4 linked regions of the Homo sapiens genome follow. The protein of the gene in region 1 purifies or fractionates together with the protein of each later gene. This does not show direct contact. Each region holds a gene or a part of one and is shown in the gene's direction. Other genes may lie near its edges.

The links. Proteins that work in one complex are often made in the same cells at the same time.
Region 2: the proteins of GRPR (region 1) and DSTYK purify together in Homo sapiens (affinity purification with mass spectrometry; 2 studies listed by BioGRID and IntAct, with this or other methods). This does not show direct contact.
Region 3: the proteins of GRPR (region 1) and DHRS7 purify together in Homo sapiens (affinity purification with mass spectrometry; 2 studies listed by BioGRID and IntAct, with this or other methods). This does not show direct contact.
Region 4: the proteins of GRPR (region 1) and FADS1 purify together in Homo sapiens (affinity purification with mass spectrometry; 2 studies listed by BioGRID and IntAct, with this or other methods). This does not show direct contact.

Annotation. Positions count from the first base shown.
Region 1 is NC_000023.11:16,147,564-16,150,804, forward strand, and holds part of GRPR (gastrin-releasing peptide receptor), read left to right. Parts: intron 1-2,741; coding exon 2,742-3,093; intron 3,094-3,241. UniProt on the Homo sapiens protein: Receptor for gastrin-releasing peptide (GRP). Signals via association with G proteins that activate a phosphatidylinositol-calcium second messenger system, resulting in Akt phosphorylation. Contributes to the regulation of food intake.
Region 2 is NC_000001.11:205,141,996-205,145,707, reverse strand, and holds the end of DSTYK (dual serine/threonine and tyrosine protein kinase), read left to right. Parts: 3' UTR 1-3,203; downstream 3,204-3,712. UniProt on the Homo sapiens protein: Acts as a positive regulator of ERK phosphorylation downstream of fibroblast growth factor-receptor activation. Involved in the regulation of both caspase-dependent apoptosis and caspase-independent cell death.
Region 3 is NC_000014.9:60,155,390-60,158,903, reverse strand, and holds part of DHRS7 (dehydrogenase/reductase SDR family member 7 isoform 1 precursor), read left to right. Parts: intron 1-2,751; coding exon 2,752-2,904; intron 2,905-3,514. UniProt on the Homo sapiens protein: NADPH-dependent oxidoreductase which catalyzes the reduction of a variety of compounds bearing carbonyl groups including steroids, retinoids and xenobiotics.
Region 4 is NC_000011.10:61,806,995-61,810,508, reverse strand, and holds part of FADS1 (acyl-CoA (8-3)-desaturase), read left to right. Parts: intron 1-3,514.

The DNA of each region.
Region 1 (3,241 bases):
TCTATCACCATATTTCCTGAAGACTGGCACATAAATCTAGAGGCTTAATTAGATTTAGATTCAAATTAATTTTCTAGTAAAACTATAAATGCTTTATACTATATTTTATATTTTAAAAGTTGTGAATTTAAAAGAAAGAGCATAGTTCCCATGGTATTTTGCACCTAGGAAGACAAGATTCCTAAAAGAGAAGGACGTAAGCCATTTACTCTGGTTTCTGACTGAGTGAATCACCTTTACTCAGAGAGTTAGTGTAATTATGACTGCTATCTGCCAGAAAATGCAGATAGAAGTCTTAGTTATCATTTTATCTCTAACAAATTTATTAGCGATATCTTTAGCCATATGCATCTTTGGCTGAAGATGTTCTCATGCCTTTAATTAAAGATACCAATTTCTTGCCTACATTCTAAGCTAGGAAAATGTTTAAAATGGCTAATGAATAAAGAAGATCCAAAAGAAAATAGAACTTTATTTTAAATTTTTATTTTTATTTGTATTTGTTTAAAAATAAAGCAAATACAGGTACATTGAAGCAGGACTGTAGTATTGTTCTGGAATTTTGGGGTTTGGGGATGTTTAATAAATAATAGCCCTCTCTTCCCTACCTAATTTGAGAACAAAAAGCCAGATAAGGAAATCAGAGAGACTATGATAAAAATAGTTGCATCTATGTCTGATAAAGCTGTTTGGGGAATGTAACTCAGGTCTATAGCAATAATGAACTTGCAGACACTCTCTTATCTTCTATATTACACTTGCCATTCCTCTAGACAGGGCCAGTTAAACAACCATAATCCTCCCTGAGCCCAATGCACAAGCCAGGTTCTTTTTCCCAAACTTGCCACTGAATAATTCCCCCTTCCCTGGTAGGAGGAGGAAAGTGAGTGAGGAGTCAGGGTGCAGCCAAGAGTGGTAAACCAATGGAGGTCTAATCAACATGAAAACAAGTGGAAATAAGTATTCCCCTTCCCTGAAGTCCATGATATAAAAGAGTATCATAAGTAGAGTCCAGTTTAAACACAGCATTTTCAGCAATAAACACCCTCACATGTAGTTGGTCTCAACTCATATCAACTTCCACATTATAGTAGCTCATGTTCAATTGAACAAACTTTTGTGGAGTGTGTGCAAATCACAGTGCTGGCAGATTCCAACATAGAAAAAGACATACTCTTTGCCCACCAAAGGCTCATCCTCTGGTGGGTTCTCAGACAGGTGTACGCAAGATAATGGTGCCCTTGTCTTGTCACTCACTGTGCTAGAGACCGTATGGGGAGTGTGCAGACATGGAGATGTGCTGCTCAGACCTCCCTTGAAGAAGAGACTTGCCCAGTTGCAGGGGGTGTGGTTAGCTGAAGCCTCCAACTACCAGCTCTTTCAGGGTCCACTTCAGCTTTCAAGCTGTGGTCATGTTCTTTTGGGTGGTTCCTGCCCAGTGACTGAGCCAGGTGGTAACTGAGATCACATTCTTCCTGGGGTGACCCCATGCAATGACTAAGCAAGGTGATTATACATGGGCCTGGCAATTTCCACCCAAAGCAGGACTTCCCCGTTGGGTAATCTTTGTTCCTAGGCTTCCTGTTGGGCTAGCGTAGAATGACCAGCTATCCCAGTTTGCTTGGACTGAGAGATTTCCCAGGATGTAGGATTTACCATGCTAAAACTGGAAAATTTCCAGGCAAACCAAGATGTTTAGTCATCCTCGCTGGTGTAGACCTGAGAAGCTCCCTCTTTCTATCCTACTTCCTCCCCTTTTTCCTTTCACAGGTATTGCTCCTCAATAAAATTTGTATTTCTTACTTCATCTCAGTGTCTGCTTCCCAGAATACTCAACCCAAGACATGGGCACAAATAGCTCACAAACCAGGAAGAACCTAAATACTTCAAGAGAAGATAAGGCTGAGATCAGGAAGGCAAGGGAAAAATCAATGTGAAAATTACAGGGATTCTCCTGGGTATTACTTTTTCAAGGGACCATTTATTATGCATACTTTGAAAAAGAAAAGAGGCATATTTAAAATACTCAACGACTTAAGGTTCCCTGAAGTGGATCTGAATACGCAAAATGAAGGTTTTGCCAAAAAAAAAAAAAAAAAAAAAAAGCCAACCTCCTTGTCTCTGTGTCCTTTAACTAGCAACATGCCTTGTTATTAATTTCTATGATTTAAGAAGAAAAACAAAGGGAAATTCAGCTTTTCTAAGAGGTATTCTTAAAATCAAGAGAGAGTGTGAATTGTACAACATGGTGACTATAGTTAATAACAATGTATTGCACACTCGAAAATTGCTGAGTCGATTTTAAGTGTTCTCATTTTAAAAAGATAAGTATGTGAGGTAAAGTATATGTTAATTAGCTCAATCTAGTCATTCCACAGTGTATACATATTTTAAAACACCATGTTGTATACAGTAAATATATACAATTTTTATTTATTTATTTTTAATTGGCTTTAAATTAAGACAAAAAGAGAATATAAGCGGAATGGTACTTGTGGAGAGAAGAGAAGGCATCCTTCAGGGCTAGATTAGAATGAGGCAAGTGGCTATTTGGAGTACAAAATTTAAGGAGGCACTCACTCTCAGGGTCACAGAGCTCAGAGTCGGCACCCTCAGGACCCGAAAGTGAGCACCTCCTTAAATATTGTACGCCAGGTGTCTCGCTTGCCTCAACTTAGTCCTGGCCCTGGTATTCAGAATAATATTATGCAACTGATGGGGATGCTTCTTTCCTGCCCTAGATACAAAGCCATTGTCCGGCCAATGGATATCCAGGCCTCTCATGCCCTGATGAAGATCTGCCTCAAAGCCGCCTTTATCTGGATCATCTCCATGCTGCTGGCCATTCCAGAGGCCGTGTTTTCTGACCTCCATCCCTTCCATGAGGAAAGCACCAACCAGACCTTCATTAGCTGTGCCCCATACCCACACTCTAATGAGCTTCACCCCAAAATCCATTCTATGGCTTCCTTTCTGGTCTTCTACGTCATTCCACTGTCGATCATCTCTGTTTACTACTACTTCATTGCTAAAAATCTGATCCAGAGTGCTTACAATCTTCCCGTGGAAGGGAATATACATGTCAAGAAGCAGGTAGGTGCTCAGGATTGATTCATTTCCTCCTTGGGGATATAATCCCTTGCATTTCTTTTGGACCCCACTGACAAGCCATGACACTTGAATCTGCAATTAGATGAGGTGGGTGATGTGTGGCCAGATGCTAAATGGAAATGCCTAGCCA
Region 2 (3,712 bases), on another chromosome or scaffold:
ATGAGTTGCAAATTAGCCGGGCATGCTGGCACGCACCAGTAATCCCAGCTACTTGGGAGGCTGAGGCAGGAGAATCACTTGAACCCGGGAGGCAGAGGTCATGGTGAGCCGAGATCACGCCACTGCACTCCAGCCTGGGCAACAGAGCGAGACTCTATCTCAAAAAAAAACAAAAAAAAAAACAAAAAACAAAGATGAGTCGCACATCTGCTGCTGGGATTTTCTAGGGTTGTCTATGACAGAATGACCATCTTTTAAATATTAATGGAGTATAAATGGAGTCTATAATGGGTCTTTCATATAACTTTTAACTCTTTGGCTATCCTGGGCTCTGATCATGATATGTTTGAGCATAGTAGCTCCCTAAACTCTTGGAGCCTTTCAGAAATTCCATGTAGTGCTAATAACCTTTTTACTTGCAAATGATAAAGTAACTGACTCAGTGTCTTTGGGCTCTGCAGGCTTTAGCCTTGTTTTGGTAGGATGTTCAGTATATTCTCAGAATTTTTACCACCTATTTAGCTATACTTCAAGTACTCTATTCTCTGCACTAACTTACTGTCCTTCTGGGAACTATGATGGGGCTTCAAGGGAGTCAGGTGTCAAGAAAGGAGGGGTAAGTACTCTCTACTTGCTGGAAAATCATTGTAAGTCTGTTGTGTATGAAATTTTAGGAAAAGTCTTATATAGTTCCCTTTCCAGACTGTTTTCTTTTGACTCTAACTATAATCATAAGTCTGTGCTTCCATTATGAAGGTCACATTCCTAGCATTCTTGGGAAGTATTAGCTCATACTCTCATTCACATATGGGAGGTTAGATTTTTTTCCTCTACCCAGAGTCCCTTTTTAGTTTACCCCACGGCTTAGTTTGCTGTCAGATACCAGTTCTCTAGCAGATTCCCCAACAGTTTTTTCCCCAGTGGGGAGGGTGGAAGGGAGGGACTGATATAAGTAAGGAGATGAGTAGTTGTGTTACAGTTCATTTTCTTTAAAAAAAAGTATTTTGAGAAAAGGTGCAAAATATTCTTGAAAGTCTCTAGGCCAGCCAAAGTCCACATATGGATATTTGGGGATGTTATTTAAATACTCAGCAGGCTGAGTGCAGGTATACGTGTGTATAGAGTGTGTATACTTTGCTTTTGTTTTATAACATTGTCAGCTAATTTTGGCTTTGTTCTTTGGCATCCATTCTTATTATAAGTGATGGAATGCCATGAAATGTACTGTATTGTATATTACTTGGGAGGACACTAGGTTTTCAAAGAAGTCTGGCAGCACTTGGGTTATAGAGGGCTCAGCATGACCAAAGTCCTAAAGATTTTACCTCCCAGCTTTGGTTGTATGTGTTCCCAAGTGGTGAGGTGAGATTGTGGCTGGAGGAAGAAAAAGGATGGCATGAAAGAATGACCCTTATTGTGGTCTGTCCTTCTAATCAACATAATTAGGGCAGCTTACCCCAACATGAAAATGATGACCTGGCCATTTTTAATGGCCAGAGCTTGAAGTCTGGTCTCTCATTTTGTTTCAGAAATGAGTGAGAGGCCTTCCTGCAGAGCAGTCAGGAGAAATGGTGGAGCCTGGGGCCCTGGAATGGCTGACCCTGTGCCTAGAGAGCTGATGGCAAGGGCTGTCTGGCATGGCTCATTTGGGTGGGGTTTCCCCAGGCATACCTTAGTTCCCTGATCCTCTGCAAAGAGTAGCTCATTGACTGAGCAAGCGCTTCAGGAGGACTGTGCTGGTTGTTCCCAGACCAAAGAGAGTCACTTTTGACTCCATCAACTTCAAGGGGACAGAGCCTAGGCAGCAGATTCTCCTAATTTTTAACACTAAAATTCAAGGAAGCAGTGGAGGAAAGAATGCATTACTACCACAGATAGAAATAGGGGACTCATAGAACTCTCGACTAGTACCTGTCAGCTCTCAAATGCATTCTTGTGTCTTTGCTTGAGCTGCCAAAGAAGGGTCACAAAGTGTTCTTCCTCATGGAAGAAGTGCCTCGGGGTTGCAGGGCTGCAAAGTGACAACTGCACTGAATGACACTTTATTTTTTGGCTTTGGCTTATTATTTAGCACTGGGAGGCCCAGGGGAATTGGTGATTACAGTAGCACTTTGGGAAGTTAAAGCCCCCTTTGGGCTTGCTTTGGAGAGATGATGGCATGCTTGGTATTCCATTTGGATAATCAGGAAGCCTCCCTAGTCCATCCATATTGTGTCAGAGTGGGATTAACAACCCTGGAAGAGTCCACTGCCAAAAGAGTAGTTGCTTTCCTGGAATTTCCAAAGCTTTTGGATTTTCTGGATCAAGTAACCCACTTTTTAAAACCTGAGGTCAGGAGTTCGAGACCAGCCTGGTAACATGGTGAAACCCCGTCTCTATTAAAAATAGAAAAAATTAGCCAGGCATGGTGGCGGGCACCTATAGTCCCAGCTACTCAGGAGGCTGAGGTAGGAGAATTGCTTGAACCCAGGAGACAGAGGCTGCATTGAGCCAAGATCACACCACTGCACTCCAGCCTGGGCAGCAGAGCAAGACTCCATCTCAAAAAAAAAAAAAAGAAAAAGAAAAAGAAGGTTAATCCTTCAGTTATGGAGGTGGGATGAATAGAGCTTGTTTGATGTTAAAGTGGGTAAGGAGGGAGTGGCCTTGAGACACTTGTATTCCAAACTCTCCTGGAGGTTTCCAGTAGCACTACTGTTCCTAAAAGGGTTTCATTTTTAACTTCATCTGTTTTGTTAACATCCAGTCCAATTGAGGTGATCTCAGAGGTGCATCAGGACATCTAGCACTGGGGAGGCCACCTTGCCCAGATAGTTGAAAAGAAAATTGGTCTGGGCAGCCTGTTGTCTTTTGTCTTCATGTAATGTTTTTTCTTTGTTTTAAAGGACTAATGTTTATTACAGTGTTAAATAAAAGTGTAAGATACTAAGTGTGTAGAATAAAAGTGCAATAACAAAAGACAATGACTTTGGCACACACTTCAGTCTTTATCCTCTCTCCTTTCTTGTGCTACCTGGCTCTTTCCATAATATTGTTACAGCAGGACCGTCTTAATTGTGTGCATTTTGAAGAGATGCGACTCTGGGTTAATCTTCATTAGTGTAATATTGAAGGGTTGGGTTTGGTTTTATAGAGTATTCTGTATACTTGTTGGGATACACAAATACCAGATGTGCTGTATAATAAAGATCACATTAACGTTTTAGGTTTCTATCTGTTTGGTTTTGGTTTTCCCTTACCTCACTACCCATAGTAACAGGACGTTCCCTAATCCATTCCATTTCCACTGGTGACCTTCAGTCAGATGTCTTTCAGTTTGCCTTAGGAGAGATGGATGGAACATGTTCCTCTCCCATCAGGGGCCCTCCCCAGCCACCATGGCTCTTGGCCTCTGGGTACTTTACATCATCACTACTGAAGGGTGGGGCAAGGGAATGGGAGATAGGATAGTGGAGAAAAGGGGTGAGATGATAGTCATGTATCTTCCAGAGCCTATCCTGGGTGACATGCTTTTTTCCAGCTTCTTTTAAGCACGAACCTGCAGCATTGTGAGTTCATATATGAGCCTAGCTACTCTATTATAATACATGGTGAGGGAACTGGGCACATAATCTTACGCTGGCCTATCTGCATGTAGTGTATTTTGCATTTTCTATTTAGGCTCACCCCAGTGCTGAGATTTGCTTGCTCAGCAGTGCCTGACAGGCACCAC
Region 3 (3,514 bases), on another chromosome or scaffold:
TGATAGCATTTAAAAGCTTATCATATCAGTATAAAAAAGATCCCTGGAATGATTAGACTTTCCCAAAAAAGGAGCTGAAGCCTTCAGAGATAATTAGCTTCCTCATCCTGTGAGGGAATTAGAGATGGGTCAAGGGCTTGAGAAGAGAATTCTCAAACTGGAGTGGGGGTTGAACTATCACTTTCCTTTCAACTCTTAAGAATCTACTTTCAGGGGCTCTTAAAGGGAGGCCATTATGTATACCAGATTCTGTGGAATCGGGAAACAAACGGTGCTAAATAAAAAAGTTTCTTCAGGGTGGGAGGAAGAGGCCAGAATTGTGATTGTATTAAAAGTTTACACCATCAGCTTTAAATATTTGCTTATGTGTGTAAATATCAAGAGGTCTTTGTTAGCTCGACACTAGTTAGTAAATCCTGTGTTTCTAAAACAAATGATATTCACTCTAGAGTGTGATGATTGCAGAACTTGGGAACAACAAGTAGTCAATGAATGAATAAATGATTATCTGAATAGATGTTATGTTGTTCTTGATAAAGTCCTATAGGAAGGTGGCCCAATTGTGCCTTTTCACAAAAGTACGTTATATGACAGGAAAGCATTGTAGCCCAGACATAGTATTTGGGATGTTTCCATCCTTAGTTGAGATTTTTTTTTTTTTTTTTTTTTTTCCGACAGAGTCTCACTCTGTCACCCATGCTGGAGTGCAGTGGAGCAATCTTGGCTCACTGCAACCTCTGCCTCCCAGGTTCAAGCAATTCTTGCACCTCAGCCTCCTGAGTAGTTGGGGTTACAACGATGCGCCACCACACCTGGCTAATTTTTGTATTTTTCATAGAGAACAGGTTCCATCATGTTGGCCAGGCTGGTCTCGAACTCCTGGCCTCAAGTGATCTGCCCGCCTTGGCCTCCCAAAGTGCTGGGATTACAGATGTGAGCCACCGTACCTGGCCTTAGTTGAGATATTTACATGGAACCTTTTTCTTAAGGACAAGTGGTATTTTCTTGAATGTCTAAGAAACAGTTGGGTTTTAAAATATTGATCATATGTAAATGTGTATATCATGAAATAGTGGACAGTGTGGGCTTTGGAGCTAGATATACCTGGGCTTATATCCCGGCTCTGCCAGGGTTCTTGGGTGTTTATTCAGTAGTTATTTATGGAGCCTTTTCAATATTCCAGTCTTTGCTAAGCACTGAGGCCACAGCAATGAACAAGGTAGACAGGGTCCTACCCTTAATGGAATCTATGGTCTAGTGGGACAAATTAATCTCTGTAAACCTCAGTTACCTTTTCTGTAAAACTGAGATAATAATACCTTTCCATACAGTTCTGGTGAGGCTTTTAGTAGACAATGTGCTAAGTACATAGGAAGTAATGTAAAAACGTTAAGCCATTAGAATTGGTAACTCTGTTTTCCTGGCTGGAGAAGTTAGGAGACATACGTTATTAAGTGACTGTTCTATGTTTTGCTGTAGTAAAGTCCATCTGTTAAAAAACTTGAGCAATAATTATAATTGACGTTTATTAAACACTGAGTATGTACTAGATACTGCCCTGAGTGCTTTCCATGTTTTAACTCATTTCTCAACAATCCTGTGAAGGATGTGTTCTTATTCATCACATTTCCAGTTGTGGAAAATTAAGGCACCAAGTTCTCACCTGGGAGCATTTCAGTGCTGTGTGTGATGGAGCTGGCATTTGAACCCTGGCAGTCTCCAGGGATGGTACTGTTAACATCACAGTTAGGATTTAGAGCTGTTTAAAACAGTACAATCATTTCCTGATTTTAACTTTTCTGATCTAAAATCGGAAATGTGATGTTAAGTGATACGATATTTGATATTTTTGATAAATAACATATATTTTAGTAAATAAGTCACCCAGGAACTTTGCATAACAGTGACTTTACGGGTTCAGAGAGACAGTGAATATCATCTCCTGAAGTGCTAATAAGTTTTTCATTGGAGAAAAGAATAAACCATTTGTCATTGCTTTAGTACTGTAACATTTGTAGTCTTTTAAGAGGAACATAATTGGAGAAGCAGAGTACAATATTTCATCTCTCTGTAATATGCATTTGTTCTTGGGTGAATTACTATATTCTCCTAAGATGAAAGCTCAGGCATCTGGGGAACATTTTTACAAAATGACCTTGAGCTGATAGGCATCAGGCATTATTGGCAAATGGGGAAAATACTACTTTAAAAATCTAGGATGTTTCCATCAACAGCACAGAACTTGGTATATTTAGATTCTTCATCAACCTCCATTGCAAAATATTAGAATAATAGAATTAAAAACTGGATGTGACCTTCAGCCATCATCTAATCTGAATGCCTCATTTAATGGCTAAGGAAAAGTGAGTCCAGACAGTGATTTTTGTATTTACTTAGCCTGTTTATCTTATCTATCATATTTATCTTACCTGTTTGTGTTAAATAGAGCCTTAGAGTGAAACCATGAGGTTATAAGGCTTACCTTGAAGTAAAGTCTGGAAAAGTCATGAAGGTTCTGTAATATACAAATACTGTGTTGATAACTGTTACTAGTATGATTTGTATTAATGCTTTTTTTTTTTTTTAGTTAAGAAGGAGATGCTTTCTTAGAATATTTCAAATTTTAACTCTATACATCATGCCTTCATATTTAGTGGTATTGTTTAAGGCTTTCTTTTTTTTTTCTAATCTTGGATTTATGAGCGTAATTCATTGCTTATTTTCTTCCTTCCATTTACATTCCTTCCATAGAATGGGAGCTGACTGATATGGTGGTGTGGGTGACTGGAGCCTCGAGTGGAATTGGTGAGGAGCTGGCTTACCAGTTGTCTAAACTAGGAGTTTCTCTTGTGCTGTCAGCCAGAAGAGTGCATGAGCTGGAAAGGGTGAAAAGAAGATGCCTAGGTAAGCGGATCTGAAATAGCAGCGGTGCTTCCTAGAAATAAATCAGTCCAAACTCAAATACAGTTTTGGGACTTTTAGAGAGGAGTGAGATTTCCCCCCGGCTCCAAATGTTCTACATGCTTCATCTCAGTTCCTCTCCTTTTTGCCTTAATTGGCTGCCCTCGCCTTTTTCTTCTTTTCTGCCACCTTTCTATGCTTTTTTTGCACTGACTCTTGGCATTAGGGAGTGACCAACAATTATATAAAATGCTGGTGGATTTTTAGTGACCAAGTATCTTAGATTTTTGTCTTAGAGAAAAAACAGTTGGGTTCTTATCCATGACATACATGTATCTGATCATAGAAATTAGGAAGAATCCTTACTCATTTTATTAAAGTATCAGATATTAAAATCATATGGGATAAGACTTATTATATAGGATAAAAGAACAGGAATGGAATTAGCTTTAAAAAATACAACTTGAGGTAATACTTTCATATTCACATAAAGGGCAACAGTGTTAATATTTTTGTTTGAATTTTGGTGTAGTTATGTTTACTTTTTTCTTTTTGAGATGAAGTCTCACTTTGTTGCCCAGGCTGGAGTACAATGGTGTGATCTTGGCTCATT
Region 4 (3,514 bases), on another chromosome or scaffold:
TTTTGCAAAGGATCCAGCGGATGACCAGAAGGATCCAAATGATGAGATAGCCTATCCTTGAAGGTGCTGATGGCACCTCCTGGAGGTGCTTTTTTGACACTCTTGCCCCAGGCAAGTATTCCCCTTGCACTTTGTATTTCTCTCCCACACTTAGGTATCCTTCTTGTCACAGTCTTCTCTGTCCAGGGCTGGACTGTCTTACTCTTCTTTCATGTCCAATATCTGGAACATTCATTCACTGAGTACTTCTTCCCACCCTGCTGATCCCCAGCCTGATTTCCTGGGTGGTCAGCGTTGGGTTTGAGATGTCGTCTGAAGTTGTAAGCAGAAATAATGTAGCTGCTGAAGGAATAATGCCTGGGGGTGGAGATCTGGTGAGCTTTTAGTGAGCATTAGGCAATGGAAGGTTCTAAAAGGCCAGCAGAATTCTTTGAAAAGTTCATTTAAAGCCCTTTGTCCCAAGGCTGTAGGCTGCAGAGTTCTTCCAGGTCCACCTCCTCCACTTTGTGACATTTCAGCTTGCGAGGAATTAAATTGTCGTTAAAACACATTTCAGTTCTAGGCATGAGTTCAAGGTAGCCTGGCGTTCCTCTCGCCCCTGGCCATGAGAACTTTGAAAGGGCTTTGGCAGCACTGGTTGGCCTGGCATGAGGAGCTCATAGCTTGAGGCTCATGCCCCACCTGTCCATAATGTTCTTATTTTCCCATCATGAGCATGGACTTGGGTTTGTTACATGTCCGATACCATTATGGTCAGTACTATGCAGATGACGAAGCAGCCCTGTCCCCCGTCTGACTCCCATGGCTGCTTCAAGGGCAGTGTGGTTATTTGCTGGGCAGTGGCATGGGGCTTGTGCATTTCTACTGTCACTACAGAGGGTTTAAAAAAAAGACATGGGCAGGTTAAGTGGAAGGGAACAGTCTCACACCACTACCTTTATTGCTTCTTGGTACTTGGGTTTTCAGGAAATTCCTATCAGCAGACATCAAAAACAGAGAATGAAGGGACGCAGTTGGCATGTGCCTGTGGTCCCAGCTACTTGGGAGGCTGAGGTGGGAGCATCGCTTGAGCCCAGGAGGTGAAGGCTGCAGTGAGTATGATCACGCCACTGCACTCCAGCCTGGGTAACAGCGCAACCCTGTGTGTAAAAATAATAATTTTTTAAAAAGATTAAAACCAAAAAAAAATTGTAAACAGAGTTCAACGTAACTTACAGATTAAAAACAGTAAAATATGACAGAAACTGAGAGGTAGTCATGATCAGATATGGCCTCCTTCGGGTGCCGACATCTGAACTGAGACCTGAATGATGAAAAGGGCCAACACTGCAAAAATTCAGGGAAGGAACATTTGGAACAGAGAGAACAGTCAAGTACAGAGGCTCCCGGATGTTCAGGGACAGTAAGCAATGAGAGAATGAGAAGACCAGAAAACTAGGGAGGGGCCAGATCATGTAGGGCCTTAGAAAGCCATGGTAAGGGTGTGGTAAGAAGTTTGGGTTTTATTCCAATAGCAATGGGGAGTCACAGGAGGGTTTCTGGTGGGTACAGCAATCTGCTTTGCACTTTAAAAGGCTTGCTCTGGCTGGAGGTGGAGAGGATGAATTATAGAGGGTAGGTATAATCACAGATATAACCTCAGTGAGGCGGCTGGAGCGAGTCCAGACCAGACCACGGAGGAGCAGGTGAAGCCAATGGATTTGGGATATGTTTTGGAGGCAGTGTAAGCAACGCTTGCTGAGGACCTGGATGTGGTGGTGAGAATCACCCCATCTCGAGCAACATTAACTGAGGAAAAAATTGAAAAAGGGGCGCCCTTGCTTGGGGGCTTCCTATTGTGGAACTGTTATGGAAAGGAGCCCCATCCATTGCTTCCTCCTTGAATGGCAAATGCCTTTATGATCCCTATAACTTGTCCCATTATGTTTAGACCCTTGGTGGTCAGAAGGGTTCTATTTAGGGCAGTGTCCCCTGCCCCTCCTTGTCCTCCAAAAATTTTGGGAGGCACTGACGTGGATGTCATGGGGTCAGCACAGGCATCAACATCCCCAGAGGGATGGAACCAAGCAGCCTATTGCCCAGGCATTCACTAACAGGCAGCCCATCCTCAGCCTCATAGCTGGCCGGGGAGAAGAAAGGCTATTTTGGGTCCCAGATCTTTTTTTTTTTTTTTGAGACAGAGTCTCGCTCTGTCACCCAGGCTGAAGTGCAATGGTGCGGTCTCAGCTCACTACAACCTCCGCCTCCCGAGTTCAAGAGATTCTCCTGCCTCAGCCTCCTGAGTAGCTGGGACTACAGGTGCGTACCACCAAGCCTGGCTAATTTTTGTGCTTTTAGTAGGGACGTGGTTTCACCATGTTGCCCAGGTTGGTCTCAAACTCCTGGGCTCATGCAGTCCGCCTACCTCAGCCTCCCAAAGTGCTGGGATTACAGGCATGAGCCACTGCACCCGGTCTCTGTTTACAAATTTATCACCAGCTTCATCCCCTAAGGTTATAAGCTCCATGAGGGTGGGAAGTCTGTATTGTTCACCTCTGTATCCTAAGCATCTAGAACATAGCCCGGCACACAGTAGGTGCTGAAGAACTTGAATCTGTTAATGTAGAAAGGATGTTTCATCTAGCTGAAGTGTCTTGTACAGAATAAACTCTCAATAAATGAACTGTGGACACATGGAAGGGTGAGCTAGAGCTCTGCTCAGGGGTTGAGTGCTCCTCTTGTGCCCTTGTGGTTGTCTGGTTACCTGAACTAATTGGAGTGCGATGCAGACATAGTCATGGAGTGAGACAGCAGAACTTTGCTGTCTTGTTTGTGAGCCCACATCAGGGGTTCTAGACTGGCTGGTTGACATGGTGGCCCCAGCCTGTCTCTTCAGCAGCTCGGCTTATAAAAAATAACCACCACCTACTGGGGAAAACTGCTGGAACCTTCAGATTGCCAAATTGTTCTTGGTGTCTTTTCCAGAAATATTTGCCAAACTCGAATTAGCCTTCAGGAGATTTGATAAAGCTCATGTTTAAGTCAAGAGACCAAAAGATTTTGATGGGGAGAATTAGGGGCTGGATATAGAGGGAATACTTAACCTGTATAGGGGCAGATATGGTTGTCCATGGAGATTCTGGTGTGAAAAAGTACGATGGCGGCCGGGCGCACTGCCTCACACCTGTAATCCCAGCACTCTGGGAGGCTGAGGTGGGTGGATCACCTGAGGTTGGGAGTTCAAGACCAGCCTGAACAACATGGAGAAACCCCATCTCTACTAAAAATACAAAATTAGCTGGGCGTGGAGGCACATGCCTGTAATCCTAGCTACTTGGGAGGCTGAGGCAGGAGAATCGCTTGAACCCAGGGAGGCAGAAGTTGTGGTAAGCCAAGATCGTGCCATTGCACTCCAGCCTGGGCAACAAGAGCGAGACTCCGTCTAAAAAATAAACAAAAAAGTACGATGGGAGAAAGGGGAGAGGGCAGTGGGGCCTGGAAACCTCATGACAAAGAGAATGAACACAAGAGGGCC